6 separate regions of the Homo sapiens genome follow, and regions 1, 2, 3, 4 and 6 are each reported to be linked to region 5. The links are microRNA targets in miRTarBase. Many come from high-throughput screens and were not tested one by one. Region 5 holds a microRNA gene; each other region holds the end of a gene's coding sequence.

Region 1 (5,547 bases), not on the chromosome of region 5:
AGGGTGGGCAAACCCAGTTATATTTGGGAACAATTGAACACTTCAAAAGAATTTTCATGTTTGGTTGAGACAAATCCAACAGCATTTCTTTAAAAAAATTCCCCTTAAATTTGAAACTTCATAATATTTAAAGGGAAATATAATAAGACATTTTTTCCATATTACACACATTTTGCTGCAATGTAATTGACCCAAATATCAAAGAGTTTTAAATCATCCAAACCCCAAGTCACAATGTTCAAGTCCAACATGGCAAAATGTGTTACCCTTTTAATGATTTACATAGACAGCAGTACATATTATATATGCACACATCGAGGCTTACACATAAACATATTCTATACTTAGACATTAAGTTTAGTATGTTTAGAATTTTACCTTGACTATACACTTGATCTGAAAAAAAAGAGAATGCCATATGTAAACACAATTGTATATCTTCTTAAAAACAATTGGCTTTATTTTGAAAATATTGATGATTGCATAATTAAGCTCCTTGAAGGATGGGACAACATCTTTTTCAATGTTTAACACCAAGTGCTTTAGAATTTTTAAATGCCTGATACATAAGTTTGCTCAATAATCAACTGTTAAATAACAGATTAGTAAAAAATGGTCCACATTCTACAATTAGCTGTCTATTTTGTATACATGGAAGATGTAGTGACATAATGTTAAATGCTATAGGTACCATTTTTCTTTTATTTCCACTTAAGTTTGGGACACAATGAATTGTGAATTGCTATCTATTCTACTTCTATTTCTTTGCAAGTGTGAATTCCCTCTCATCTCGGATAACTTACTGCTTAAATCGTAGGAATTGTTTCTTAATTTCACATGTGAGTGTAGTTATTTTACAAGCTCTTTTCTACTTGTCTTAACATGGAAGTGATATTAAAATTGCATTTGTACGTGCATTGTGTTGATGTCTTATTTTATTAGTTAAAATAATAACCCAATGGCTTTAGTTTTATTGACGTAGTCACTAGATTTGCTCAAAAGAATCAAACTAAATTCCATGTATAGGCAAGACCTACCAACAAAATGTAGTAATAAAAACATTCTTTTATTCTCTAGAAGCATTCAAAGAAAATTTTGTCACTACTTTGGAAAGTAAAGTTGTATCTAGTTGTCTCCAGACAATTGGCATGTATTTGAATATATAATACTTTAAAACTACAAATTTAAATCTCCGGACGTTTTGTTTTACTTTTCTAATTATTTTACATGGGTGAGTATTAACCTTCATTTACATAAATCCATCACATTTGGCGCCAAGCTTGCTTCAGTAGCATAAACATGGGAGAGATGTGAGCGGTGTTTATGTAATAGACTACTCTTATACCTCAGAGGATGCTGGCTTCTGCGATTGAAATAAATGCAGATTTTTATATTTTCTTTTCATCAATTCTAAAGAAATTTATATCTTCTCTGCTAAGGAGTGTTTCACATATAAAAGCATCTTGTGACATCCAATAAAATTCTGTTTCTATGAAATTTGCTGTGAAAGGACCATTTTTCATAAGTATGAGCTCTTTCAACCTGATAACCAGGCCATGATATGATTTGTTCTTTGGCACTGCTAGAAATATGAGCTTTATCATGGCATAGTGTTCTGGCTATCTGTAGGCTATATTCTGACCAAATTAATATATTGAAGTATCCCAGTTGATTACTTTCAGAGAGTCAGCTTATTTTTCTCTACATACTAATGATCTCCTTTTCTCCATTTAGAGAAACACTACACAAAAAGGAAATTGATCATGGAATGATTATTGCCACAGTGGACAATCGTATAGGCACAGAATAACAGTTCTTGAGTCAAATCTCAGTGAAGCCACTTTTCCAGATCTTTCAGTCACTTTCCACTTAAGTAGAGATTTGCGGAAATAAATGAAAATGGTTGCCTAAGGTCAAATTTTCAAACAAGTTACCGCCTCAGAAAATAATGCATTTGAAAAAGGAGTGCATGAAACCTGGCCCTAGCATAAGTTTGATAGAACAAACAGGAATGGTTTAATCCAACACAGATCATTTTAGTACTTTTGTTTCCTTCTTGACAAATGGCCAACATTAAATAAACTTTCTGCCTAAATCAGAGTGATATGGGAAAGATACGCATCTGAAAAACACACTTGCATCTCCCCACAGAAAGATGTTCCCTAAATATAAATTTTAAGGGAGGGTTAATCATCACCATACTGAGCCTGAATATATACGTAATCATAGACATGCTGAGAATTAGTATCTTGTGTCTGACTGATAGGCTTGAGTATATGTGGTCATAATAACTTAAATCAGGATAACAACTTGGGTCATAAACACATTTTATTTCCATTCTGATTTTATCTAAACACATTTTCATCACCCTTAGATTTGTGCTTCATAGATTATTTGGTTTGAAACATAATCTATAGCTGGTGAAACATGCTGGCGGGTTTTATTTAAGCTACTTAAGATCCCTTCCTAATTTCCTGCATTTGTGATCCCGGTTTTCTACCACCTCAATTATACAAGCAGAACCTGCAACTTCAGTAAGCGTTTTATGTATACAGTTCTCCCACTGAGTATTCGTTCATGTACACACACACTCACACACACACACATGCACGCACGCTCACAGACACACCAACCATACACTGCTCCCACTTACCTTTTTCCTTATTTTTTCAGAATTTGAATTGGACATCAAAATACACATTAATTATAAAACATTAGAAAATCATGTTATAACATTGAAAAGGCTTTTGAAAGAAACTATTACTGATAAAGCATTACTAGGTTTGTAGCAATATAGATTACAAAGATTCTCTAACTCCTGTTATATTTGGTTTTATTGAGCAGCACTGAACTATTGCTGTCAATACCCTTACAAGAAAAACTGCTATAACAATAACTTCAAAAACACATCTTTTCTCTCAGAAATATAATACTAAATTGATTGTTAACAAAGAACCACATACTATCAATTTTAGGAGGCATAAATAGTAATTTAAATATACAAAATATATGCGATAGTTTCTTTTTTATTCATTCGTGGCAATATTTATATTCAACTAACAAGTTCTTCTTAAAAGATATATATGATTTTTTTAACTTAAATTTCACCACTACATAAAATTGAATCCACCCCATCCCTCATCCCCTGCATTTCCTGTCTCTTTCTTGAAACAAAATGAAATGAAACATGATCATAATTCTTTGGTCATGGTGTCATAATCAGTAAGAATGGGTGTGATGATCACATACAGAAGATTATGACCCAGAAATGTGGTGATAACCAGTTTGAAAAAATTAACAAGAAATACATATTTTATTAATAGATCTAAACTTTTAGAAAGATTGGCATTTAGTGTATTAAAATATGTAAACTGGTCTAGTTGAATGTTTATTTCTCATTTTCTTGGGGAAACAAGCATACACATGAAAAGTTACTTAAATATAGTGATTATGGTGGCTACAATGCCACTGGTCCCACTTTCTTGAAAGCAGTCATGCTCTTGAGCTATTAATTCCTTGTTCCTTCCATTGTCACAGTGAACCCTGGTCTCCTCCAATCAGATCAATGATGCAAGGACACATGTCCCTAAAGTCATTTCTGAAGGAAATGTTTTCTGCTGGGATGTCCAATATATCCTAGTAACTTTCTCTGGAGTCTGACTAACCATTGCTTAGTTATTACTAAGTCAGACTAATGGTTAGCCTAACCATTGCCAGAGGATGCTAAAGAGAAATTCTTATAAAGCCAATGTAGCAAAAATATTGTTGTCAATGTAACTTGGACGTCCAAATTAAGCATCACATTTGCATTCATTTCCTGTCAAACCCTTGAAACTTAAAAAGCACAGATGCTCTTAACAAATATGATATTCAACTTCTACGTTACTAGCACCAGATCATATATTACGTGATTGAACATGATTTATAGTTGTGAGCTCTTGTACAGAAACCAAATGTGGGCAAGGGAAAAAAAACATTTTAAATGCAAAAATTAATAATAAAAGGCATCAAGGGATTACATATAAAAGAGATAACAAACCAGTTAATACTGAAATTATATCATATAGTAAACTCTTGATATTTCTGTAATTTATATACGTATAATGTGTATTATTTCAGATGTCACCCATAAACTAGTAAAATATTTACATTTTAATATCTTCTGGATTCAAAATAATCCGGGATAAATAAGTGTGCCTTCATTGCAAGGACATATGCATTTTATCTTGAACTTGCCACGAATAGGCACAGCTTCCCGTGGCATTCCACTCCCACAGAAAAGATATGTAACAGTTCATTATCATATGACCGAGTCGACCTCCCTCTTCATATTAAGAAATGTAGAGCTCACACCATCCTGCACACACTCATATGGCAGTATCCCAGAATACCGTTTGCTGTTTAGAATACGGTGGAGGGCTGTACTTCTTGGCACCTGCATTCTTCTTCCAGCTGGGCAAGATAGGCATGCTATCCTGTTTGCAAAGGCCCTTTTCCGTTTTCTGTCTAGCCTTTATTTCCTTGCACAAGCAACGCTTTTTCTCAATCATCTCAAGCATTGTATGGTCTCCATGAAACCACTGCATGCATGCCACCTAGCAAAAAAGAAAGAGTGAATACAGAAGAAAAAAATGGAATGAAAGCATATTTCTTTTGCACTGTGCTAGTAGTTTCTTAGAACAATGTCAGCTGTTTCTATATCTCTTCTAAAATTCTTTTTAGTTTTGTCTTGTTTTAGACAAGGTCTCACCCTCACCCAGGCTAAGAATACGATGATGCAATCACAGCTCACAGCAGCCTCAACCTCCTGGGCTCAAGTGATCCTCCCACCTCAGTCTCCCCAGTAGTTGGGACTACAAGCATATACCACCATGCCCAGCTAATTTTTTAAAAAAAATTTTGGTAGAGATGAGGTCTCTCTATATTGCCCAGTGTGGTCTCAAACTCATGGGTTCAAGCAATTCTCCCGCCTCAGCCTCCCAAAGTGCTGGGACTACAGATGTGAGCTACTATGCCCAGTCCAAAAACTCTGAAGATAAATTAAGAAATAATTCTTACAAAACAAAAATAAAAGAATGGAAACTATAAACAAATTTTGTACTTAAATTAGTAAACATCGCGATATTTAACAATTTGGGCATGAATATTTTTCAATATGTTCTGAAAGTTCATGATATGAAAATTAAATCTTTTACACTTTTAAGCAATTTTCCAAATATTTACCTGTAACTTTATGTTGGCTCCATTGTCTTATTTGTGCCCATATTTTTAAATTCAATTATTGGAATTACTTTTCAGTGAGGTCTAATATTAATGTGATATGTTTTAAAGATTTGAATGAATGTTTTTTTATTCTTGAAATAATTTTAAACAGGTTTATTTATAAACAGAATGTAGTAGAATATTTTTAATAATTCATCTCATCAAAATGATTTTAAGTGCACACCATATGCTTAGAATGTAAATGCTTAAATATTTCTTCTGCTAAGAAGTTTTTGCTATAGTTTTTGATGCTTCGGCAAATGTCTACATTAGAACCATTGGTCC
Region 2 (5,450 bases), not on the chromosome of region 5:
AGGCGGGACACGACCCCGGCGCGCCCTAGCCACCCGGGTTCTCCCCGCCGCCCGCGCTTCATGAATCGCAAGTTTCCGCGGCGGCGGCGGCTGCGGTACGCAGAACAGGAGCCGGGGGAGCGGGCCGAAAGCGGCTTGGGCTCGACGGAGGGCACCCGCGCAGAGGTCTCCCTGGCCGCAGGGGGAGCCGCCGCCGGCCGTGCCCCTGGCAGCCCCAGCGGAGCGGCGCCAAGAGAGGAGCCGAGAAAGTATGGCTGAGGAGGAGGCGCCTAAGAAGTCCCGGGCCGCCGGCGGTGGCGCGAGCTGGGAACTTTGTGCCGGGGCGCTCTCGGCCCGGCTGGCGGAGGAGGGCAGCGGGGACGCCGGTGGCCGCCGCCGCCCGCCAGTTGACCCCCGGCGATTGGCGCGCCAGCTGCTGCTGCTGCTTTGGCTGCTGGAGGCTCCGCTGCTGCTGGGGGTCCGGGCCCAGGCGGCGGGCCAGGGGCCAGGCCAGGGGCCCGGGCCGGGGCAGCAACCGCCGCCGCCGCCTCAGCAGCAACAGAGCGGGCAGCAGTACAACGGCGAGCGGGGCATCTCCGTCCCGGACCACGGCTATTGCCAGCCCATCTCCATCCCGCTGTGCACGGACATCGCGTACAACCAGACCATCATGCCCAACCTGCTGGGCCACACGAACCAGGAGGACGCGGGCCTGGAGGTGCACCAGTTCTACCCTCTAGTGAAAGTGCAGTGTTCCGCTGAGCTCAAGTTCTTCCTGTGCTCCATGTACGCGCCCGTGTGCACCGTGCTAGAGCAGGCGCTGCCGCCCTGCCGCTCCCTGTGCGAGCGCGCGCGCCAGGGCTGCGAGGCGCTCATGAACAAGTTCGGCTTCCAGTGGCCAGACACGCTCAAGTGTGAGAAGTTCCCGGTGCACGGCGCCGGCGAGCTGTGCGTGGGCCAGAACACGTCCGACAAGGGCACCCCGACGCCCTCGCTGCTTCCAGAGTTCTGGACCAGCAACCCTCAGCACGGCGGCGGAGGGCACCGTGGCGGCTTCCCGGGGGGCGCCGGCGCGTCGGAGCGAGGCAAGTTCTCCTGCCCGCGCGCCCTCAAGGTGCCCTCCTACCTCAACTACCACTTCCTGGGGGAGAAGGACTGCGGCGCACCTTGTGAGCCGACCAAGGTGTATGGGCTCATGTACTTCGGGCCCGAGGAGCTGCGCTTCTCGCGCACCTGGATTGGCATTTGGTCAGTGCTGTGCTGCGCCTCCACGCTCTTCACGGTGCTTACGTACCTGGTGGACATGCGGCGCTTCAGCTACCCGGAGCGGCCCATCATCTTCTTGTCCGGCTGTTACACGGCCGTGGCCGTGGCCTACATCGCCGGCTTCCTCCTGGAAGACCGAGTGGTGTGTAATGACAAGTTCGCCGAGGACGGGGCACGCACTGTGGCGCAGGGCACCAAGAAGGAGGGCTGCACCATCCTCTTCATGATGCTCTACTTCTTCAGCATGGCCAGCTCCATCTGGTGGGTGATCCTGTCGCTCACCTGGTTCCTGGCGGCTGGCATGAAGTGGGGCCACGAGGCCATCGAAGCCAACTCACAGTATTTTCACCTGGCCGCCTGGGCTGTGCCGGCCATCAAGACCATCACCATCCTGGCGCTGGGCCAGGTGGACGGCGATGTGCTGAGCGGAGTGTGCTTCGTGGGGCTTAACAACGTGGACGCGCTGCGTGGCTTCGTGCTGGCGCCCCTCTTCGTGTACCTGTTTATCGGCACGTCCTTTCTGCTGGCCGGCTTTGTGTCGCTCTTCCGCATCCGCACCATCATGAAGCACGATGGCACCAAGACCGAGAAGCTGGAGAAGCTCATGGTGCGCATTGGCGTCTTCAGCGTGCTGTACACTGTGCCAGCCACCATCGTCATCGCCTGCTACTTCTACGAGCAGGCCTTCCGGGACCAGTGGGAACGCAGCTGGGTGGCCCAGAGCTGCAAGAGCTACGCTATCCCCTGCCCTCACCTCCAGGCGGGCGGAGGCGCCCCGCCGCACCCGCCCATGAGCCCGGACTTCACGGTCTTCATGATTAAGTACCTTATGACGCTGATCGTGGGCATCACGTCGGGCTTCTGGATCTGGTCCGGCAAGACCCTCAACTCCTGGAGGAAGTTCTACACGAGGCTCACCAACAGCAAACAAGGGGAGACTACAGTCTGAGACCCGGGGCTCAGCCCATGCCCAGGCCTCGGCCGGGGCGCAGCGATCCCCCAAAGCCAGCGCCGTGGAGTTCGTGCCAATCCTGACATCTCGAGGTTTCCTCACTAGACAACTCTCTTTCGCAGGCTCCTTTGAACAACTCAGCTCCTGCAAAAGCTTCCGTCCCTGAGGCAAAAGGACACGAGGGCCCGACTGCCAGAGGGAGGATGGACAGACCTCTTGCCCTCACACTCTGGTACCAGGACTGTTCGCTTTTATGATTGTAAATAGCCTGTGTAAGATTTTTGTAAGTATATTTGTATTTAAATGACGACCGATCACGCGTTTTTCTTTTTCAAAAGTTTTTAATTATTTAGGGCGGTTTAACCATTTGAGGCTTTTCCTTCTTGCCCTTTTCGGAGTATTGCAAAGGAGCTAAAACTGGTGTGCAACCGCACAGCGCTCCTGGTCGTCCTCGCGCGCCTCTCCCTACCACGGGTGCTCGGGACGGCTGGGCGCCAGCTCCGGGGCGAGTTCAGCACTGCGGGGTGCGACTAGGGCTGCGCTGCCAGGGTCACTTCCCGCCTCCTCCTTTTGCCCCCTCCCCCTCCTTCTGTCCCCTCCCTTTCTTTCCTGGCTTGAGGTAGGGGCTCTTAAGGTACAGAACTCCACAAACCTTCCAAATCTGGAGGAGGGCCCCCATACATTACAATTCCTCCCTTGCTCGGCGGTGGATTGCGAAGGCCCGTCCCTTCGACTTCCTGAAGCTGGATTTTTAACTGTCCAGAACTTTCCTCCAACTTCATGGGGGCCCACGGGTGTGGGCGCTGGCAGTCTCAGCCTCCCTCCACGGTCACCTTCAACGCCCAGACACTCCCTTCTCCCACCTTAGTTGGTTACAGGGTGAGTGAGATAACCAATGCCAAACTTTTTGAAGTCTAATTTTTGAGGGGTGAGCTCATTTCATTCTCTAGTGTCTAAAACCTGGTATGGGTTTGGCCAGCGTCATGGAAAGATGTGGTTACTGAGATTTGGGAAGAAGCATGAAGCTTTGTGTGGGTTGGAAGAGACTGAAGATATGGGTTATAAAATGTTAATTCTAATTGCATACGGATGCCTGGCAACCTTGCCTTTGAGAATGAGACAGCCTGCGCTTAGATTTTACCGGTCTGTAAAATGGAAATGTTGAGGTCACCTGGAAAGCTTTGTTAAGGAGTTGATGTTTGCTTTCCTTAACAAGACAGCAAAACGTAAACAGAAATTGAAAACTTGAAGGATATTTCAGTGTCATGGACTTCCTCAAAATGAAGTGCTATTTTCTTATTTTTAATCAAATAACTAGACATATATCAGAAACTTTAAAATGTAAAAGTTGTACACTTTCAACATTTTATTACGATTATTATTCAGCAGCACATTCTGAGGGGGGAACAATTCACACCACCAATAATAACCTGGTAAGATTTCAGGAGGTAAAGAAGGTGGAATAATTGACGGGGAGATAGCGCCTGAAATAAACAAAATATGGGCATGCATGCTAAAGGGAAAATGTGTGCAGGTCTACTGCATTAAATCCTGTGTGCTCCTCTTTTGGATTTACAGAAATGTGTCAAATGTAAATCTTTCAAAGCCATTTAAAAATATTCACTTTAGTTCTCTGTGAAGAAGAGGAGAAAAGCAATCCTCCTGATTGTATTGTTTTAAACTTTAAGAATTTATCAAAATGCCGGTACTTAGGACCTAAATTTATCTATGTCTGTCATACGCTAAAATGATATTGGTCTTTGAATTTGGTATACATTTATTCTGTTCACTATCACAAAATCATCTATATTTATAGAGGAATAGAAGTTTATATATATATAATACCATATTTTTAATTTCACAAATAAAAAATTCAAAGTTTTGTACAAAATTATATGGATTTTGTGCCTGAAAATAATAGAGCTTGAGCTGTCTGAACTATTTTACATTTTATGGTGTCTCATAGCCAATCCCACAGTGTAAAAATTCAGGAATTCAATGAAAAAAGTCTACCCTTAAACCCTCAGATCAGTCTTTCCAAAGAATTACTCTGTTTGCATTGTTGTGATTGACATTTGTGAAGTCCCAAGAAAAGATCTGTTTTCATGACAGTAGAAAATAGAAGTTTGCAAATTATTTCTTTACTCAAAGAGGATTAAAAGAGAACTCTAATTTTAATATTAAAGCTTTCTTTTCTTTCAGGGAATAAATTTACATGACTTTTTATATTATGGAGGTTTATTTTTAAATCATCACCTTTCTCATATTTTTTAGAGGTATTGTCTTATCTCTTCCATAATCTTGGATATTACAAAACCCTAAATAGGCAATCAATAAATGGTTAACTGGCTATGTGTTCATAAACATTTTAAACAGCAATTGGGTTTGTAAGGCTGTTTTGTTGTTTGCTTCTGAAGACCCCTTTTTTTAATCGTTCAAGGAACCTTCTCCAGATAAATTATCTAGTTGGTCTACTCTTAGTCAGAATTTATGCATGGGTGTATATATGTGTATATATAGATAAGTATACACATAAGTATATATGCATTAATTTTTATAAAATAGAGATGTAAAGTTTACTTACATTTCATAATATGGAAATATGGTTATGAGAAATGGAAAATGCTAGATGGAAAACCTCAAATACCTTTACAGGTTAAAAATATCTTTACTAAATTTTCCCATGAAAACATTTTGTGATAAAATGACAAGGGACTAAAATGAAGATCATTGATACAATAGAGTTACTTTCCTTGTTACAATGCAATTGTCTTATAAGTCATTATTCATTTTAAGGAAAATCAAAAAAATTAGATCTTACTAAAAATGTAGCATTTGATTTTAAGTAGCAAGATGCAATTTTGTGTTCCCTTTTTCTTTGTTACATTAACATAATATAGTAGATAGAGGGTTTATTGTATAGACATACACAAAAAAATAGTATTCTTAGGCCAAATTCACACATATCTCCTCACTAAGTAGTTCAATTAGATAATTTCTGGAAAAACATGTTTTTGACATTAATTGCTATCCAAAACTATATTTTAAAGCAGTCTTATTGGAGGTGTCCTTAACATGATGTAACTATAAATTTGATGCAGAAAGGTTTTACATGCTGTGGTTAAATAGCTTTAGAAGACATTTTTAAGTCACCACCAGCCTTTATTCTTAGAAAACAATTTATTCTAAATGATGATGCATATAGAAAACCAGTGTATTCTTTTATTTCTTTTAATACTGGTGGCAAAATAGG
Region 3 (5,547 bases), not on the chromosome of region 5:
TCTCAGTCACTGGTGATCAGATGTTTAGGTATGTTCTTCTCTCCCTTTCTTTGACTAGTCTGCTACTCCTCATCCTTCAAATCTAGCTCAATTACCCCTTTCAGTTAAGTCTCCCCTGATCATTTTAACTAGGGTATACACTCAGTCATGGCTTTAATATCTGCCATCAACCACATTGCTCCATCATGGCATCTGCTACACTTTGGTGTCATCAGTCTTTGATTAGACAGTTCAATGAAAGCAGAAACCACAGTAATTTTTGTCACCACTAAATGCCTAGTGCTTGGCATGATGCTGGGCAAAGGATACCCTAATTTGCTGAATAAAGCCTTAGTTTAGTTGCTTAATACAGTGTGTCTCCCTATTAAACACAGTACTTAAAATTGGTATTTCCAAATAAGCATTAATACACAAATGCCTTTGCTAGATGATCAGGAACAAACTGCTGATCTTCCACTGCCTCTACTCAAAACAGCCGTACTGCTTATGTAACTGGATTAAGCTTCAGAACAGCTTGTTAAAAGTAGGATATTAGTAGCAGAAGCTGAGAAGTGTATTAGATGAGGCTATCAGATTGCTTTTATAAACCTTTTCCTCTCTTCACACCAGTAGCACTTCTTCACCTACAGCTTTTGCTGGATGGTTTTTAACAACTTAAGCAGACTGCGTTCAAGGACAGTGAGAAAACCAGACTTTCATATTATTTAATCTAGTGTAATTTTAAACATTCACTAGTCTTTTGCAGTATTTTTGTAGGATTCAAAATGGAAAAAGGTATGAAGATGAGCCTTAACAATTTACTTTCGTTTTCCTGAGGGGTCTTCCTCCCCGTTAACTCCATAAAAAGGACAAGATCAAGGGCAATACTGATTCTGTGAAATCTAACTTATAATCAACTAAAATTTAGAATGCTTAAAAACAACCCAAGTGGAATGCAGATTCAGGAGCTTAAACATAAAATGAAGGGTTTGAATTCGGCACTTATCTGCATTCCACTTCCTCTAGTTATATGACGGAAAATATAATGAACAAATGTCCTAAAACACTTAGGAAGCTGACTGCTCAACTAGTTGTTAACTCATCACCTCAGTTAATGAACCTTCTGAGAATAAGCACACATTCTATGTCTCCTTTAAGTGGAAAAGTCTCCCACGTAAGAGCTGCATATAAAAGGAGACAAAAGAACTGTAGAAGCTAACTGATTAGAAATACTTAAAGGATATTTGTTTTAATATCAAGGTACAATGATTGAAAAAAAACTTTTCCATATTTTTTAGGAATTATTAGGATCTGGAAATAAAACTGCCCTAATCAAGGTAATCAATAACATTCTACCTTTTTAAGTTTTAAAAAAGAAGTTTCATATCCACATGAGATGATTTATATTATGCATATACAAAAGTATTTTGTATGTGAGCTTGCTACACCAAGAGGCTACAGTGACATGTGTGACAATCATTTCCTTGAAACTCTGCTAAAATATGCATTTGACCAAACAAAAGGCCTTCTGCAGCTAGGACAAGCAATCACATATTATACAGAATGCTTAGAACCAAGATTCAGATCTTAATGAGACTTATTGAAAAGTTCTCTGCCCCATAATGAGGCACCCCTTTAAAAATATGGTCTGAGTAGAGACATAAAAGATATACATTTAAACTGTGATGGTAAAATAACCAAAAAAAGAAAAATTATAGTTCAAAAAAAGGAACAATTCTTTGAAAAAACATACATAGAAACAGTCAAACTATGAACACCTTTACACATTCACAACATCTGCACTAATGCATAGAAGTTCAAAACCTAGAAGGCATTTTCTCCCCCATCCCTTCTCTGAAACTGATTCAGAGGTCACTGTGTGAAGAACTTACTTCAGTCCTGATTGTAAATGTCATGAAATTATTTTCTACACAGATAGCAAATTTAGTTTTATATAGGACTGCAAGCATACATCATCTAGGGATTACCCAGTAAACCACAAATATTTTATCCATTCCCCTAAGATACAGGTAACATATGGTTGTGGTACATCCCAGGCAGATGTCATTTAAAGCACGCAAGGGGAGGTGCTAGCAAAAAAATACTCATTTGCCAAAGTAACAGGTTAACCCTTCCAATATGATGTACCACAACCACACATGAGAAAAGTCAAGAACTTATTTTATTTTATTTTAAAATAAACATTGAAGATCCCCCATTTCCCACCACCCTACAAAACTTTTGAATGTGGAATGTTCAACAGCCTATCCATTTTGGTAGGTTACAAAACCAGCAAAAACTCCAGTTGTCTAATGATGAATGTTTGAGAATAGTTTTGTTTTTAAATAGCTGAGCACCTACTGGAAGAATTCCTGGGCTAAATGCTGAAAATAAAATTTAATTTCTGCACAGAAAATACCATTAACTTAGTAGCCTTTGCTTAAAGGTGGGATTAATTCTCCATGAAGTCAGAATGAGACAATAAGCAGCATTAACTTCCTAGGCACACAGAACTAGTGCTCAAACTGCTAGCACAAATTCCAACAGAGTACATAAGGCTAAGTCACTACTCAAGTGTCCATTTCCATCAAATTTAGAGACTCTCCCTATGCATCTAAGGGAAGGAATTATCACTGAATATAAATGCCTCCAGGAGAAACGGAGAATTCAGTTAAGGTTAAATTAGACAAAAGATAATAAGTGCAAGTACTAGAGAAATGTTGCTGGAGATAAACCATAAAATTTGTGACACTAACGTGGCATGGGGTGAATCACATAAGCTGCTAGCTGTTGAACACCAGTGTTTCAAGATACAACTTTTATAAACGTTTTATTTGTTTTGCTTATACCATCAGAACTGAAACTACTGTCCGTGATTTCCCTGAAACAGGGAAATCAATCTAAAACACATACTGGTGCCTTTCAAAAGATAGCAATTGAAAAGGGTGGTAGCAGCAGGCATTTGGTATCTTTTCCTTTTAAAAAAAAGCTTTCAAGCTGAAGGAAAAACATGTGACCGAGAGTGTTATGATTATCCACTAGAGATTTTCATCAGTACCTGTACCAATTTAGGTGACAATACAGCAAAATCCAAGGATTAGTGACAGACAATGTACATGTCATAAGGAATGATAGATAGTACCAATCCTTACAAAAGTCATTGTCTCAAAGAAACTGTTAAGTGTTCAAAAAGGTATCTAAATATTTCACATTAAGTACAGAAGCGGCCATCCGGATTACATCCCATATTTGTTGCATATTTTTCAAAAAGTGCCAATCAAAGCCTAATTTTGCATCTTGGCTTTGTCTTATACAGTATCAGCTGTTAAAAAGCATTTTACATGTGTTTTTAACCACAGTTGTTTGGCCAGATGAACAGTGCTGTGTCAAAGCTGGTAGCCAGCCTTATATGTGTGATTAGGACCCATGCATAATTTGGTATGCATCTGAACGTTCAGTGCTCCAATTTAACTGGAAAAGCTGTGAAATGCAGTTGTTCTGCCAAACCACACTCCACTCCTTTCATCTTCCTTTCTAGGGAAATAATTTAGTTTGTCAGTTATCATTGAATAACTCGAGGGCTGATTTGTAGATTTTATCCAATGTCATAAAAGTCAATCTTGCCTTTTTCAAGCCACTTCAAATAACTATGGAGATTATTATCACCCTGTAAAGTATATTGTTTTACTCCTAAGCAAGGGTGAGGAATCTGAGTATCATGTGCAAGGCTCAAGATGACGCTTAGGACAGAACATGCAGAGTAAAAATAGTTTCCTTCCATATCCAGGTAATAGAAAGCTGACAATTGTAGTCCTGTCTTTATGGGATGAAAACAGTCCCTTTACAATAAGTTTCCTGAAAGGGAGAACAAATAGATAATAACTCTTCTGGTAACATATTATGGTACACTGGCCAGTGTGTTTTTGGCGATTAAACATAATCCTGTGAATCAGATTAATTCACTTGCTGAGTGTTCATTTGCGGCATCCCTCTGTTGGGTCTTGGGGGCCCTCCACGACCTAGAAGACAAAAATGGCATTTGATTTTTCTTTCAAATATTATTTGTTTTGCCTTCAAGCAGATTTTCATCTGAAGTCAAGAAGCATGTGGGCAGCCTGTCACCACATTATTAGGCTTAAGAGGTCAATTCTTCAGTGTTCAAGTTTCCCCTGTCCTGGAAGTTGTCATGCGCAAATTTGCTCATGTTCTCTTAGCTAAAAGAAGAGTAAAGCTAATGGAGTATTCCACCAGTACTCATTCATTCATTCATTCAACAAATATTTATTGAGTGCCTACTATGTGCCAGGCACCATCATCAAGCGTTGGGAATAGATACAGCAGAGAAGACAGACAAGGTACCTGCTCTCATGGAGCTTACATTCTAGTGTACACTCTAGCTTACATTTCAGTAGTAAGTAACATCATACTATCAAAATTAATAAAAGCACCAGAATGAAAACAGACCTTATTACCTAAACTGTTAAAAAGAAACTACATAACATTCAAAACTGTATAATGACTTTTAACAGATAAAATAACTTTTTACATGCTGTTAAAACAGATTTTTAGCTATCAGTTAACTCAACTTTCATCGAATATGCTACAAGGTGGGAAAGAACATAACCCACATTCACATGCAAACATCCTTTGATACTTCTAGTCAAGTCAGTAATTCCCAAGTGATCCATTAATTTTTAGAAAAATGTACCTTTTTCCTGGCCAGTTTCTACTAGTATTCAAATCAAAGTACGTTGTAATTCCTCCTTAACACACATTTTATACATGTTATGGCCAATAGAGGAAACCTGTTTGATGTTTAACCTCCCTCAAATCAGAGAACCATTTAGAATTTCAGACTACATGAAATGCTAGCTCTAATTGTTAAATAGGTTAACTTCCTGCCAAAATGGGAAGTAGTTTTCCAACAGTAAAAGAAAAACAAAAAACTCTCTAAACCTGTAATTTTTTTTAAGTATAGCTCAATAAGTTAGGAATTTGGGAGTTTTGTTTAAAAGTCAGAAATAACTTGATATTTATATCACTAATAGAGGTCCAAAAGGCATTGCAAATTCCATTAGTTCTATCACTTCTAAATGGTTCTCTAAATGTTAACTATGGCTTATCCGGCCATTAAAGGGTGTCTGGCCCTAAAATATAATAGGCATGTTTCAAAAAAATGAAAGAGGAATAATAAATTTATATAAATGTTCAATCTCATTCCAAAAATGTCTTACAAAAATGTTTCAGTAAGTACTTCCTAAAAACATTTAGCAGGTTTTAGGACCTGAAAAATAATTTTCAGTTGGAAAAACACTTTTTCTGAGAAGAGAATATGTTCTAGTTTTCAAGACAGTTTATATAGTAACAGGGAAAATTAAATCATTCAAAAATTAAAATTTGGGTCCAAGATTAAGTTTTAGAAACAGAGCATTTCATTTAATCCCTAGCAACAAGTCTGGAAAGGATAAATGTATTCCTAACATGCAGACTATTAACAGCTCTTCCAAGGCCAGAACAGAAGCTCCACTTAGGAGCTAGGATCACCACCACAAAATATTACCTCGTGGG
Region 4 (5,547 bases), not on the chromosome of region 5:
CACATCAAAGGGGAGAACGATTGGAGACAGGCAGATTAGATGGAAGGACGGAGTTGTACTCCAAGCCAAAGATGATGGAGAGTGAATTAAGTTAGTGCAATGGGACCAAGTCTAGAGCTATTTAGAAGTGAGAAGTGACACGGAAAAAAAAAAAGATTGATTGGATGTAGAACAAGTTGGATAAGAATCCAGGACAACCCCAGGTGTCAGGCTGGGGCAGCTAGGTAGGTGCTATTGCCATATAAAGTGTTAAAAAAGAATAGAGAAGGGGCTAGTTGTCGGGGGAAGGAGTTCAGTTTTAGACATGTTGAACTGCAAGGAGATTTGATACTATAATTAAGGAATGTGTTTTAATAAATTTAATAAACAATGAACACACATTATTCGCATTTCCCAAACAATTTGGATGGTAGATCAAAAAGAATGAGAGTGAAAATAAGGGGTCTGTGACCACTCAATTAAGATTGAGCTAAGAGCAAGGTCAAGTTCAAACCCACTATAAGCTTCTTGCATCCATGGTCACTGACTGTTTTCTTACTGTTAGCTGTCCTGTTGGACAGTGTAACAGTGAGAGAGCATATACAGATTAGCATTGAAAAGGATAAAGTGACATGTGTAAGGGTTTTGAAAAAGTATTATACAAATGCAAGGCAGATATATTGAAATAAATGCTTATTGGCAAAATTTCAGGCCAGATAGGTTGGAGTAGTGCTTCACAAACTATAATGTGCACATGAACAACTCAGGGATTTTGTTCAAGTGTTGATTTCAATTCTGTAGCTGGAGTTGGGTGGGGTAGAAAGGATATCTGAGATCCTGCATTTCTAATAAGCTCCCAGGTAATGTTGAGTCTGTAGGTCCTTGAACCACACTTTAAGTATTAAAGGGTTAGAAAGCTTATACTGTAACTGAGAAAAAAACATATATTTCTTTCCCATGTTGTATTCAATATTTCTTGAATGAGTGTAGCTAAATGAGCAATTCGATGCAATACAAAATGTTATGCAAGTGTAGAGACAGACAGTTCACTAGGTACTTTAAAATAATAGACCTTACAAAGTTTTCTAGACAGACTTCCTGTGAAGAACAAGGAGCAGGGGGAAAGGGGAAGGGGTAGAATTTACCAATCTGAATATTTCAGCAAGGGAGAATGCATGAGTTTTACTATAAAACCACACTGAACATTGCAACAATACTAAATTCCATACATATATAATAATCACTGAGCTATAAGGTTGCTGATGTATTTGTTCTTGAAAGTGAATTAGAGTTACTTTATGCAGAATCAGCTAGTTTTATGTTTCATAATGTCTTTCCCTTTTTTGAACTTTTTTTTAAGTCTAAAGTAGGGGGAACCAAGCCTGCTGGTGGTGATTTTGGAGAAGTCTTGAATTCGGCTGCAAATGCTAGTGCCACCACCACGGAGCCTCTTCCAGAAAAGACACAGGAGAGCCTGTGAGATTCCTACCTTTGTTCTGCTACCCACTGCCAGATGCTGCAAGCGAGGTCCAAGCACATCTTGTCAACATGCATTGCCATGAATTTCTACCAGATGTGCTTTTATTTAGCTTTACATATTCCTTTGACCAAATAGTTTGTGGGTTAAACAAAATGAAAATATCTTCACCTCTATTCTTGGGAAACACCCTTTAGTGTACATTTATGTTCCTTTATTTAGGAAACACCATTATAAAAACACTTATAGTAAATGGGGACATTCACTATAATGATCTAAGAAGCTACAGATTGTCATAGTTGTTTTCCTGCTTTACAAAATTGCTCCAGATCTGGAATGCCAGTTTGACCTTTGTCTTCTATAATATTTCCTTTTTTTCCCCTCTTTGAATCTCTGTATATTTGATTCTTAACTAAAATTGTTCTCTTAAATATTCTGAATCCTGGTAATTAAAAGTTTGGGTGTATTTTCTTTACCTCCAAGGAAAGAACTACTAGCTACAAAAAATATTTTGGAATAAGCATTGTTTTGGTATAAGGTACATATTTTGGTTGAAGACACCAGACTGAAGTAAACAGCTGTGCATCCAATTTATTATAGTTTTGTAAGTAACAATATGTAATCAAACTTCTAGGTGACTTGAGAGTGGAACCTCCTATATCATTATTTAGCACCGTTTGTGACAGTAACCATTTCAGTGTATTGTTTATTATACCACTTATATCAACTTATTTTTCACCAGGTTAAAATTTTAATTTCTACAAAATAACATTCTGAATCAAGCACACTGTATGTTCAGTAGGTTGAACTATGAACACTGTCATCAATGTTCAGTTCAAAAGCCTGAAAGTTTAGATCTAGAAGCTGGTAAAAATGACAATATCAATCACATTAGGGGAACCATTGTTGTCTTCACTTAATCCATTTAGCACTATTTAAAATAAGCACACCAAGTTATATGACTAATATAACTTGAAAATTTTTTATACTGAGGGGTTGGTGATAACTCTTGAGGATGTAATGCATTAATAAAAATCAACTCATCATTTTCTACTTGTTTTCAATGTGTTGGAAACTGTAAAATGATACTGTAGAACCTGTCTCCTACTTTGAAAACTGAATGTCAGGGCTGAGTGAATCAAAGTGTCTAGACATATTTGCATAGAGGCCAAGGTATTCTATTCTAATAACTGCTTACTCAACACTACCACCTTTTCCTTATACTGTATATGATTATGGCCTACAATGTTGTATTTGTTATTTATTAAATTGTGATTGTTTTATTATTGTTTATGCCAAATGTTAACTGCCAAGCTTGGAGTGACCTAAAGCATTTTTTAAAAGCATGGCTAGATTTACTTCAGTATAAATTATCTTATGAAAACCAAATTTTAAAAGCCACAGGTGTTGATTGTTATAAAATAACATGCTGCCATTCTTGATTGCTAGAGTTTTTGTTAGTACTTTGGATGCAATTAAAACTATGTGCTATCACATGTGAAAAGCTTAATAAATTCCATCTATCAGTAGTATAGGTCTCAATATTTATTATGAGACCAGTGGTCTGGAAACAGCTTGTTGTACCGAATCAACTGGAGTCTATGCTTAAAAAAAAAAAATTTTTTTTTAACCATCCTTAAATTATTGCTTAATGGTATCATATTAACATATTCTAAATAAGGGCTTTAAGGCACAGGCTGTTGAAGCATTTTCTCAGAGGAGTGGATCTGTAGAAGTCTGTCTTTCTATAGAAATATTGTGCTTACTCAAGTGTTAAATTATTTTTTCTATGAACTAGTCTACTTCTTAAAATTCAAACATATTCTTTTGATCACATTGTTTCTTGAGCATCCTGCCCTGCTACTAACTTTTCAACAAGGCAAAATGGAGTAAAGTGGCAATTTCTTTAGATGAGTGAAATACCCTCAAGTCTCTTTTCTGCCCAAAAAGGGAAAAGTGATAGAAATGGGGGTGGCAAGTGGGGTGAGTGGATGAAGGTGGGTATTGGGGGTGGCTGTGAAAGAAAATAATGGAGAATCACTTTTCTAGACATCTACCTATACTTAATCTAAGAAACAAAGTAATCTACTGTAAAGTACTCTGCCCCTTGAAAGAAGTATTAAAAAGAGTGAGGATGGATTTAGAAAAAAACATGAATTTAGAAATATTCAAAATGGTTTTTGTGGCAGATTCAATATTATGAATTCACAGATATTTAAAGAATGAGAAACATAGTAATTAGTAGAAATGCCAGAAACAGTTCCTGGTTCCTCTTGTGTTTGACACTAAGAAAATAGCAAGAGTGTGAAATCTCAGATACTTATGAAATCTCACAGATGTAAGGACTCAAGTGTAGAAGAAAATATCCCCTTCTTACAAAAAGAAATGTCAATTTATGGAGTTTGTGGGAAATAGGGCAAGAATTCTTATGCTTATGAGAGCCAAGTAGTCAGTGGAAGAGAGTAGAGCTCAAAACTGGATTATCACCTTAGCAACTTAGAATAGTTTGAAATAGAAAAAAAGTATTTAATTTGGATCTGGATCTGTTAAGATATGCACAGTCTATTTTTTGTATAGTATTGGAAAATAAAAATGCTATAATTTGGGTATGGGTTCTTTTGTATACATTACCTGCCCATTGAGGAAAGGGGCAAGTCCATTATGCAACTTCTCTCCAAACCCTTCATATTCTGGATATGATACTTAAAGAGCCATGAGCAGCTACATTCTGCCTATCAGAAGGCATTTATTAAATGACTGCTTGCTGAAGATGTGTCCAAAGAGATCCTACATTAAGGTCATTTGTCAGAATGATGTTTGTGTTTGTTTAGAGTTGGCTGACCTCCAACTCCTGGGGTCAAGGAATCCTACTGCCTTAGCTTCCCAAATAGCTAGGACTATAGGCATGCACCCGGCCATGTGTTTTATTTATAGCTCTTAAAGCCCAGATGAAGAAATCACATTTTTGCCCATAGTGAAGAAACATTTGGCCATTGATTAGTCCTTATTTTCAGTGACTGTCCTGTTTTCATTAGATTAGAGAGACCCTGTGTGGGCCACAGTTAATATAAACCATTATCACTTTTAAGTAAACCTGCACATCTTAGATTTCATAATTTCCTTATTGTTCTGACTCAAAATGAACTAAGAGCTTTTCACTTTTTGTTTGTAAGTTCTCAGAGAGTCGGGTCTGCAAGTGCTTTTGCCTGCCAGGATTTTGTACTCAAATAAATGCTATTTGGCAACTAAAATTCTTGCCAGCTCTCATGTAATTTTGATGTTACTGAGGTTGGTTGGTAGTTTATTTTATTAATTTTGTGGTTCTTCTATCATATAGAAAAAGCCAAATACAGTTTTGTTTGAATATTTGTAAATGGACGTGATCTTTCACTTTACCACTCTCCAGCATGCTTTAAAGTTTCTCCTTGGTTTCTAGAATTGATTCTCTGTTCTTATTTTCCATTTTGACTATTTTTTAGTATTAGAATTCTTCCAGCTCCTAAATGCTATTGTCTATCTGTTGTTATCTTCTACATGATCCCCTTAATGATCTTATCCATTTCTATGGGTGAAATGACTATTTTTAGAGTGATACTAATAGCTTCCCAACCGGTATCTCCAGACTTGTTGATGGTGGTGGCCCTCCTTGAGCAGCTGCTGCAAGGACACCAGCTGCAGCAAGGGAAGCATGGCTGGGGGGTTGCAGGCTCTGCAGAAGTGGCAGGGGCCGGCAATAGGTGATCCCAGCAGGAACCCTGCCTTACCATGTTGGCAGGGCAGGAGCTTGTGCTCCTGGGTGCAGCTGCAGCCACCCAGCTGCAGCTCCAGATCCAGGCATCTGTGTGCTCTCGGGGGCCTGGAAAGTCCCCTGCCCATGCAGGCCTGGAAGTGCCTGCTCCAGTTCGGAGCAAAGTTGTGGCTGAGCTTGGGTGCTGTCACAACCTGGCCAGGTGTGTGCATCCTCAGGGTGGTGCTGACATGTCAGGTTCCTGCTACCTCGGCCCCCTCCCAACTATGGGCACCAGTGAGCATGGGAGGGTGGCCAGGGGCTGAGGGTAGCTTGGTGTGGACAGCCTGGGTGCTCTGGATGG
Region 5 (4,000 bases):
CTCTGAGCCCAGGACATCATTTTCCACTTTCAGCATCACATTGCAGTTGCAATACTGTAAAATTCCTAGGCCTATAATTAGGTCGTCTTTTAAGTCCCTTCAAGGCAGGGCTCATGCAGGCCCTGTGGCTTAGCCCCTGCCCATCCAAGCTCAGAACAGCCTGGAACCCAGCAGACACTCAGCAACTCTTGCTCCTGTCAGGCAACAGCTTTGTAAAGCAGACCAGAACACTAACCTGTCCGTGTGTCCTCCTATTTTGGAAAGTGGATCAACTGCCCAGCAGGTCTGGGTGGGCTGGAGCTGAATGAGAAGAGCAGCCTTTCGTACTCACCTTGGCAGCACTGAAACTCAAGGAGCAAAGCTTCTCAGATTCTTCTGGAAGAAGGCAAGGGAGCGACCTGTTGTCAGTGGGAAACCTGTGTGTTGAGTATAGCTTTGGGATAGAACTCCTCCAGAGCTGCTGCACGGACCACCCTCGCACTTGCCTACTGGCCAGAATGTATTTATCAAAAGTCCTCTTGCCGTGGGATCTTGACTGCAATTTAAGACACTTCTAATTAGTTATACCCAGGCCCTGCAAAATTGCTGGGTTTATATAATATATTCTTGTTGCACGAAGATTTATTATTCTGTTGGATGATTCTATTTTAATTTTATTTATTCTGGCCAAAAAAGAACCTTCTCCGCTCGTCAAGAGATGCCAATTTGTCTTGAAGGACAAGAGAAAGATGCTAACACACACTTTCTTCTTCTTGAGGAGTGAGAGAAGCACGGGTAAGGAAAACAATATATCTGGGGCTGATGAACCAAAGCAAAAAAATATATGCTAAAGATGGTTTTCTGCTCAAACTCTTATCCTCTTTGACCAGATCATGGTTGGTCACTGCAGTGTCAGAGGGACACAATTAAATAGACCATGTCCAGAGGACTGGGACTAGAAGAATGAATGGACCCAAAGCTTTGAAGAATAAGGGAAGAAAAATAAACTAGGGCTATGTAGACTACAACAGACTATGATCCATGCCGGGAATGATGATGTTGATCGTTTAATCTCGGTCCTGTGAAACAGTGGCTGGACTAATGTAACCTGGACAGTTCCAAGGAAAAAGAACTAAGCTTAATGTGTGGAACTTCCAGAGACTCCAATTTCAGAAGAACAGGGAGAGTTTTTTGATGAACAGAACTGTCTAGAGAAGAAGGAAACCTCCTTGTAAGACAGTGAATTCCTGACCAGCAATAATATTCCATCAGAGGCTCCACAGCCATCAGTGAAGGGCAAGCCTCTCTCTGGAGGCAGGGCTGGACTCTCTTAGAAGCTCCTGAAGCAGAGATTCTCTGGATCAAGGTCCAAGATGGCCAGAGTAGCAGGCTACCACTGCATTCTGAACCCTTAATCGCCGAGCACGTAAGTATGCTCCAGATGGAGAGACCTGCCCCAGGGCCCAACTGGAAGAGTTTGAGACCAGTCCCAAAGATAACTCTGACATTGAAGGAACCACGTCTCCAGATCAACTAGTCTCCAGCAGAGGAGAAAGAAGACCTCTTTTCTCCTCAAGAATCCTCCTCACTCCCAAGGAGGTCTGGTGCTTACCTACTGTCATTGCTTTGATGATGATGCTGGCTCTGGGGCTTTGTAGTCACTAGGGCACCATTTTGAAACAATGCACAATCATCTACTAAACGGAACCACTAGTGACTTGAAAGCCCCTGGGCCTTATCTTCTCTGTCACTTTTGATGATGGGTCCCCACCTATCCGGGAAAAGCTGAGGTGCAGAAAACCAAGAGGCAGGCCCATGGTTAGCTGGCAGAAGAGCAAGGCTCCCAAGTCAAAGGTAGTAAAACCGCTTCCCCAGAGTCCCCAAGAAAAAGGGCAAGTATTTTTAAGGTAGCCCAGCCCTCTGCCCCTGCCTAATACTGTGCAAGCAAAGCTCTAGCCACATGAGCATGAGCTTTCCCTCATCCAGAGACTGACTCAATAAATGAAACAAAAGCAGATTTTCTGCCTAGTCACATGGTAGCAGAACAAGATGCCTCTCACGACAAATGGCTGGTTGGGTGACTGGCTCCATCCACATTCTGGAAACGATGAGGGCAGTGCCTTCACTGCCCTGAACTTGGTCAGGATGTGTGAAGAGTGTTTCCAGGGTTGCTCTGGGAGCTACCCTGGGGAGGTCCCTTGGCTCCTCATTCAGGTCACCTAGGAACATAAGTGAAGGTGCTCACATCTAATTGGGAGCTGAAGTGTAAGATACCCAGGACCTTCCCCTTTAGTCTTTGTCAGAGAAAAGGTCAGAAAACCAGTGGCCACTATGTCTATGTGGAATCCACCATGAAGCCTTTGATAAGAATCTGTGCTTTTCAGACTTGTTCCTTTAAGATAAATGTCAATGCAGCAGCCAGTGTAGCTGCTGTAACTTCCTCCAGACTTTCCCAGCCTTAAACTAGCTGACATTAGAACTCTAGCCTCCACCTCCCACTACAATGGACTTTGCTTCCCATTCAACCAGACTGGATTGGTTCTGGGTATGGAGAACTCACACGAGCTCCATTCCCCAAAGTCATCCAAAGAGGTCAGAGTTGTAACCTCGAAACTGAAGGGTCTGCATGAAAAAGCCAGCTGCACATTCCGACAGCAGCAGAACTTTATCTACTTACCTAACCTCTCAAGGAGCTTGGCAAAGCACTTACTTCTTTGCAGATGAGACTGAGACATAGTTACAAAGTCTCAGTTTCCTCTGCAAACAGTTGTAAGTGCTTAGCAATTATAAGACAGGAGCCATGTCTTACAATGTTTGCACGGGATGACTGCAAAGCATTTGTATGGATGGCCATCTCCAATCATCCCTACCACCTTCCTGGACTTCCGCCAAGCCCTGGCACGCTTACCAACTGGGGTTGTGATTATTTCAGTTTTGTTGCTCACTCCTGTAAAATCAAACTGGAAGAGCTTCCAGGAGTTCTTCTCATTGATTTCAAGCTTGAAATTTTCCCACTTGTAGATCATCTCATTCTCAGGATAGGAAACTGGAAAGGAATGTGAGAAAGAGGGTCTTATGAGACTTGGAAGCCCACCTGAGGTCTCCAATAGCATGAAGTCAGCCTGCACAATGCCTTGGAGTCCTGTCTCTGGCCTCACCAGCTGTGGGACCTTGCCTCTCTTACCTCATTGTTGAAGTCCATTCAATGAGTGCGTTTACTGAGCATTCCTCAGTATCAGGCCCTAGGCCAGAAATACAGAGATGAGCAAGGCATGAACCCTACCCTCAAGCAATCACATTTAATTTTATAAGACAGTGAGTATACTACTGTGATTTTTGGAGGAGCTCTGAAAAACCTATGTCCACAGAACAGCGGGGAAACAAAGTAGATAAAGGTCACTTGGGGACATACTCAGAAAAGACTTCATAAAGCAGGTGATATTCCCATTAAATCTTGAAACTCAAGTAAATATTCTCAATAAGAATGAGGTTGAAGGGGTTAAGGGGCAGTATAGAAAGGTGAAACACCTGGTGTATTGTGGAAAGGACAAAAGTTCAGGATGGCTAGCTCACAGAGGATGAGGTGCACAGGATTGGGTGGCAGGGTCCAGTTCATGAATGGCCTTGAGGTTCATTCTAAGGAATTTCAAATTGATCCATGAGAGTTAACGGCAGATTCGAGACTAAGAAGTGACCCAACCTAGGTGACCCTTCAGCTAGGTCACTCTGGTCCTTCTGTGAGGACAACATGTTGTCAAGGAGGCCAGTGTAGTAATCCAGGCAGAATTAAATTAATGCAGGTGGAAGTCAAAGCTGTACAGGGTGCAGAGAAATAGACAGCATCGATAGAGACTGGGAGGAAACACCAACAGGATGTGCTGATTGATTAGATGCAGGAGGTGAGGGAGAGGGAACATCAAAGTTCTTGATTTGCGCAACTGGGTGAGTGATGGTCCTCTTCAATGAGACAGATGGGAACCCAGAAGCAACACACTTGTTTTGGTGGTAGAGGTTTGGAGGA
Region 6 (5,547 bases), not on the chromosome of region 5:
AGACCAGCCTGACCAAAATGGTGAAACCCCGTTTCTACTAAAAATACAAAAATTAGCCAGGCGTGGTGGCAGGCGCCTGTAATCCCAGCTACTTGGGAGGCTAGGGCAGGAGAATAGCTTGAACCTGGGAGGTGGAGGTTGCAATGAGCTGAGATTGCGCCATTGCACTCCAGCCTGGGTGACAGAGGGAGACTCAGCCTCAAAAAAAAAAAAAGAAAGAAAGAAAAAGAGCGGTGAGAGGAAAGACAGGCGAGCAGCTCAGGGTGGCTCCTTCGTGGCTTCACCACGGGAAGTTTGCATTGTTTTGCAAGGAGCAGTAGAGACATTGTTGAAGGTATTTGAGTGGATGAAGAGTGATTCGAGTTGTGCTTTAGGTAGATTAGCTTGGCAGCAGCAGGTGGGTGAATCGGAGTGAGGAGATGGTGAGATGGTCAAAGCGAGAGGGAAGGGCCTTTCCTTTCCGGGCCGTCCTGATGGAATTTAGGTGAGGGGTGGGTCACCCAACCTGCCTGTGGTCTGGTGGCTAATGTGAGCACCTCCCTCCCAGCCCTACCTTCACAGGCGGTAGTTTCCCTGTTTCTGGTCCGTGCTCCTCCAGCTGGGCCTTCTTCCCCTGACCTTGCTGATCCTTGGTGACCACCTCCGAATGTCAGAATCCACATCGTTAGGCTCACAATGTGGGCTGCTTTTGCCCCAGTGGGTCCAGTTGCCCCAACACGCTGTGTAGTGCTGACCAGTGTTTACGTGTGGGGTCGGCTCCATTCCTCGCTTTCTCCCGAAACAGATGTCAATGCCAATCGCATCATCCCGAGGAGACGTGGAGAGTGTCCGCCGCTGCCTGGCTCACAGCCTCTTCATGAGCACCGCCGAGCTTCAGCCAGATGGCACCTATGCCACCACGGACACCCACCAGCCAGTGGCCATCCACCCGTCGTCTGTCCTCTTCCACTGCAAGCCGGCCTGCGTCGTGTACACTGAGCTGCTCTACACCAACAAGTGCTACATGCGGGACCTCTGCGTCATAGATGCACAGTGGCTGTACGAGGCTGCCCCTGAGTACTTTAGGAGGAAGCTGAGAACCGCCAGAAACTGAGCCGCCCCAGGATGCCGCCAGAATCACTGGTCCCTGGGAGCTTGGACTACAGTTGTCCTTACAGCAGGCTTCCAGGTTGGCGCTTAGAGAAGCCTTGGAATCAGCTGAAGGTGCCTGACTTCCAGGAGCGTGAAAGCATCTTTGCTCAACTCCTGGGACTGAACCATATAGACATGGACATATCATTTGTACCTGGAAACCTCAAAATTATGCTTTTGGTTCTTACTGGGTGACTTTGACTTAATTTAACACCTGAGCCTCAGTTTTCTCATCTGCCAAATGGGAGTAATAATAATAATCCTTATAAAATTGGGTTCATAAAGTTTAGAGAAAAGGAATGGAAAGTACCCAGAACTATGCCTGGAGCACGCACGACACACGTACAGTGAGTTGGGAGCCGTTAGGCTGAATGTTACTGCTTGCCATATGATGTGAAGTACAGCAATATCCCAAGTTCTTGTGACTGAGGGAGATTTTCTGGAAGGGCCACAGGAGGTTGCGGAGCTTGGATGTTGCCCTTAGTTCTTGTTTAATGTCTCTCTGAATGCAGTTTTAAAATAGAAAACAAAACTGACTTCTGTAGAAGTTTCCAGAGGGAGGTGCTGTTATCTCGTACCTCCTGGGATGGCGATCCCTACTGAACGCTTGTGTCTCAGGGTGGACCACTCTGTGTCTGTCTCCAAGCAGAGACCAGTAAAGGAGCCTCCTGGTCCTCAGTGCGTGACCCTGTCAGTGCTTTCAGGAGACATGTAAGCTTCCTGGGTGAAGGTTGATTTGTACCTTCTGAATCCTGTCACGTGTAGACATGGGAAACTGACCTATCAGTGTTTTGTGTGTGTAGGTGACTCCCACATACACAGTTGCCATTTTTCTCTCTAACTGGGCACCAGTGAACATGCGGGCATGAGGAGTGACTGTGTACCATTTCAGCTGTTTCTTTTCGGGCAGTCCCCTGGTCAGAGGGGGTGGGGGTGGGGGAGGGGAGAGGGGTACCTAGAACCCAGAGAACATTGGCTTATGCCAGATACCACACCACATCTGGGCTTACATTCTTGTATCTTTTTTGGTGTGTGGGCGGGGGGGGTGGGGGGCAGTTCAGTGAAGTCTAGAAGACCTGCTGGACAAATTCTAAAAGAGCTAGAGCTGTAACACTTATTCTTGCATCTTATTAATTTTCTATGATATTTTTTCCTTCTTCGTAGGGACTTGGGACAATCTGGCTTTGCTGCTTTCTAACTGCTAGGCACCTCTCTCTAACCCTCATTGTCAGAGGGAATTGGAGGATATCCACAGTCTGTTCCTGTTCTGATATTCTGAGCAGAGAAAAGGCACTAACGGTTCCTCTTAGCTATTTAATTATCAGAAGCAAGTAATCTTTCCCCAGATAATATTTTGCCCTAGAAGAAGCCGTGATTTAGCTCTTTTATTGTGCTTACTTGGTCCAAATACATCTGTGGGGTGTTTTGTCATTTCTTAATGAATGAATCATAGTTATAACCAGGGGCCAAGCTGCCCAAGAGGCTCTTCAGAGATCATGGATGCTCTCTTTCTGGAAGCTGTGGCCTGATGGAGCAGCCCCATTCCAGGGTCCCATCTGTCCGGAGTTGTGTATGTCAAGTCCGGCTCAGTCTTTATTTCCAACACTAGCCGTGGTCCTGTGCAGTCAAGCTCTCAGCTAGTGTTTAGGGCTGTCTGTCAGAAATGGTTATACGTGGGCAAAAGAAGATCTGACAGCTCCTATATACCTTATCTTACTGAATTCTTAAACTTTGAACCAGTTCTTCCACTTACTGACTTGTTACCACTGCTGACTTTCTGAAAAGTTTTCCAGTTTTTGTTTTTTGTTTTTTGTTTTCCAGTAGGGGATTAGAATGTTTAGTCCTACTTAGTAAGAAAAATATTGTATTTTTAATCATTCATAGTGCTGGTAAAAAAAAAAAAAAAAAAAAAAAAATTGGGGGGTGGCCGGGCGCAGTGGCTCACACCTGTAATCCCAGCACTTTGGGAGGCCAAGGCGGGCGGATCACCTCATGCCTGTAATCCCAGCATTGGGATGGGAGGCTGAGGTGGGTGGATTGCTTGAGAAGTTCAAGACCAGCCTGGCCAACATGGCAAAACCCCGTCTCTACTAAAAATAGAAAACTTAGCTGGGCATGGTGGCACACGCCTGTAATCCCAGCTACCGGGGAGGCTGAGGCACAAGAATTGCTTGAACTTGGGAGGCAGAGTTTGTAGTGAGCCAAGATCACGCCACTGCATTCCAGCCTGGCCGACAGTGTGAGACGGTCTCAGAAAAAAAAAGAAAGAAAGAAAGAAAAAGAAAAAACTTGGGGTAATTTATGTCCAGCTTAAGTACCTGAACAGTTTCCGGAAATGTATATTTTTTTTCTGAGAGGCAAAGGATGTAAACAGCTTCTAAGTAGCTTTAATGTTTCTGTACAGAAATAAGTTTATCCCTGTAACATTGTGGTAGAGTTTTAATACAGTATTTAGTTTTTTATTGGGCTTTTTTAAAAAGTTAACTTTTAACATAGCTGCTCAGGGATTAAATCAGATTGGAAAACCCATTCTGACTCCACATACTGCTACAAAGAAATACATCGTTGTTTATATTGAGCTGCAGGAGATAGTACACTTTAAACTTAAGAAAGTTAAATGTTTCACAATAACATTGCAATATAATCTTCAGCTACTCTCTTTCCATTGGTAAAATCTCTGATGGTGTGATAACTCTTTGCCAACCTACGAAACCCATATCTGGAAGAATCACCAGCTCCCGTGAGCAGCTTCATGTAAATAGATGCACTCCAAGCAGATTGCATGCCTCAGGTGTTTGTCTTCTAGTAATCATGGAGTGTGCAACACCCAGAGTAACACTACAAGGGGCAGGACTGCAAACAGCAGGTCCTGGCTAAAAACCCTTAATGCTGCATTGCTGCCAGTTGTAAAGAGATGCCTGAATGGAGGCAAGTTCTGCCCTGTGGGTGAAACTGATGATGTACTGTACTGTCATATATAAATCCACTAAATCCAGCTACCAGGAACTGCCTGGAACTGTGGCCATGCATTTTTTTTTTTCTTTAAAGACCAGTGTGATAGTAGGCCATGCATCTGAGATACGATATTCCTTGGTAACTAGAGGGAGAAAAAAAAATCAAGTAGGTTCAGGCTTATGTTGTATTTTGAGAGTCTGGTTTTATTTGAACAGAAATAACTCTACAGAAAGCTCTTGTAAATAATGCTCAAATTTGCACCCGACGATCAAATCCATTAAAAATGAATCTTGTATATGATGTGTGTGGCTTGTTTCTTGCATCTCTTTTCCATTATTCATAGAAAATTATTTAGAAAATATTAAGTGTTAGTCTTACCATGAGTTAGTAAGACATACCTTCTTAGTAGCTTATATGTCCTGTATATCCTGGGAAGGTAGGATTGTTGATTTTTAATAAATCTGAACCCTGTCTTTGGGTTATATTAATTTACTGGAGAAACTCACAGAACTCAGGGAAACACATTTACCGGTTTCATACAAAAGATATGACCAAGGATACAGATAAGGAGATGAGCAGGGTGGGGAATGGGGAAGAAGCTCCCAGCCTCCATGCCGTCCCTGGACCACCACCCTCCAGGAACCTCCATGTATTTAGCTATCAGAGGCTCTCCAAACCCTGTCCTCGGGTTTTTATGGAAGCCTCTGGACTTATCTAAATGATATAAGCTGGCTTCTTGTCCCCAGAAAAATGATGTTCCATTAGAACTTGGATGCAAGGTTGGAGGTGCAGAGAGGGAAGGTCACAAAAATTAATCATGGATCCTGCCCTTGAGGATGTCACAGTCTGGTTGGGTTTAACCTGGTTAAAGCAGCAACGCTAGGAGGTTCCTGTTGAAAAGAGAATGAAGCATATGGGCTGGGTGCGCACAAGCATGAGTTCCGAGCCGGTGGAAAAAAAGGTTCTAGAAGGCCTCTTTCAGGAAAACCCTCAGACTTTCCTTTGCTCTCACAACACAACAATCAACACAGAAGACTTATGTGGCCAAAGGTTTGGGTTTTTCCCCTCCACACTAAGCAGCAGACACCAGCTGGGTGTCCTCCAATTCAATCCCAACAGTATCTACCTGGAGATAGTGTCAGATCCCATAGGTTGAGGGCTCAGTCCCCAAGACCGCCCCCACCTTCAGACAGCAATGGCAAGTCTGGGCCTCTGAAACTTCCGACCAACCCGCTTCAAGTTGGGGTTCCCACGACCCCCCTCTTTGGATTATGTTAACTCACTGGAGCAGTTCACAGAACTCAGGGAAACACATTCACCGGTTTCATATAAAGGATATGACCAAGGATACAGATGAGATGAGCAGGGTGGGGAATGGGGAAGAAGCTCCGAGGTTCCTTGCCTACCCTGGGCCACCACCCTCCAGGAACCTCTACGTATTCAGCTGTCAGAGGCTCTGCA

Evidence for each region. Region 5 holds the annotated microRNA hsa-miR-224-3p (AAAAUGGUGCCCUAGUGACUACA, at 1,633-1,655, opposite strand). A microRNA usually pairs through its seed, bases 2 to 8, with sites in the 3' UTR of a target mRNA and lowers its output. Matches are read on the target gene's strand: a 7mer-m8 pairs with bases 2 to 8, a 7mer-A1 pairs with bases 2 to 7 and ends in A, and an 8mer does both.
Region 1: the mRNA of NYAP2 is a reported target of hsa-miR-224-3p. Seed matches in the 3' UTR shown: 7mer-m8 at 1,898-1,904 and 7mer-m8 at 611-617.
Region 2: miRTarBase lists FZD1 as a target of hsa-miR-224-3p. Seed matches in the 3' UTR shown: 7mer-m8 at 2,560-2,566 and 7mer-A1 at 3,804-3,810.
Region 3: the mRNA of CAPRIN1 is a reported target of hsa-miR-224-3p. The part of its 3' UTR that is shown has no 7-base or 8-base seed match.
Region 4: miRTarBase lists TPD52 as a target of hsa-miR-224-3p. Seed matches in the 3' UTR shown: 7mer-m8 at 2,145-2,151 and 7mer-A1 at 2,378-2,384.
Region 6: miRTarBase lists DHX33 as a target of hsa-miR-224-3p. Seed matches in the 3' UTR shown: 7mer-m8 at 2,014-2,020.

Annotation. Positions count from the first base shown.
Region 1 is chr2:225,697,365-225,702,911 of GRCh38, reverse strand. It overlaps NYAP2 (neuronal tyrosine-phosphorylated phosphoinositide-3-kinase adaptor 2), which reads right to left. Exons shown (of 8, transcript NM_001371273.1): 8 at 1-4,595. The coding sequence ends at 4,368. The region is part of intron 5 of LOC105373914 (a long non-coding RNA gene); the gene reads left to right. Among named protein-coding and RNA genes, the nearest start is that of NYAP2, 300 kb to the right of the region's middle.
Region 2 is chr7:91,264,631-91,270,080 of GRCh38, forward strand. It overlaps FZD1 (frizzled class receptor 1), which reads left to right. Exons shown (of 1, transcript NM_003505.2): 1 at 1-5,450. The coding sequence starts at 251. The coding sequence ends at 2,194. Among named protein-coding and RNA genes, the nearest start is that of FZD1, 2.9 kb to the left of the region's middle. RefSeq lists silencers at 1-397, 488-547.
Region 3 is chr11:34,097,754-34,103,300 of GRCh38, reverse strand. CAPRIN1 (cell cycle associated protein 1) reads right to left here. Exons shown (of 19, transcript NM_005898.5): 18 at 5,540-5,547; 19 at 691-3,998. The coding sequence ends at 3,934. Among named protein-coding and RNA genes, the nearest start is that of NAT10, 5.1 kb to the left of the region's middle.
Region 4 is chr8:80,034,028-80,039,574 of GRCh38, reverse strand. TPD52 (tumor protein D52) reads left to right here. Exons shown (of 8, transcript NM_001025253.3): 8 at 1,340-4,830. The coding sequence ends at 1,459. All of the region lies in intron 5 of TPD52-MRPS28 (TPD52-MRPS28 readthrough), which reads left to right. Among named protein-coding and RNA genes, the nearest start is that of MRPS28, 6.5 kb to the right of the region's middle. RefSeq lists an enhancer at 2,529-2,578.
Region 5 is chrX:151,956,952-151,960,951 of GRCh38, forward strand. It overlaps MIR224 (microRNA 224), which reads right to left and starts at 1,707; the gene lies at 1,627-1,707. It overlaps GABRE (gamma-aminobutyric acid type A receptor subunit epsilon), which reads right to left. Exons shown (of 9, transcript NM_004961.4): 6 at 2,888-3,025. It overlaps MIR452 (microRNA 452), which reads right to left and starts at 2,761; the gene lies at 2,677-2,761.
Region 6 is chr17:5,439,751-5,445,297 of GRCh38, reverse strand. It overlaps DHX33 (DEAH-box helicase 33), which reads left to right. Exons shown (of 12, transcript NM_020162.4): 12 at 785-4,381. The coding sequence ends at 1,093. Among named protein-coding and RNA genes, the nearest start is that of C1QBP, 3.4 kb to the right of the region's middle.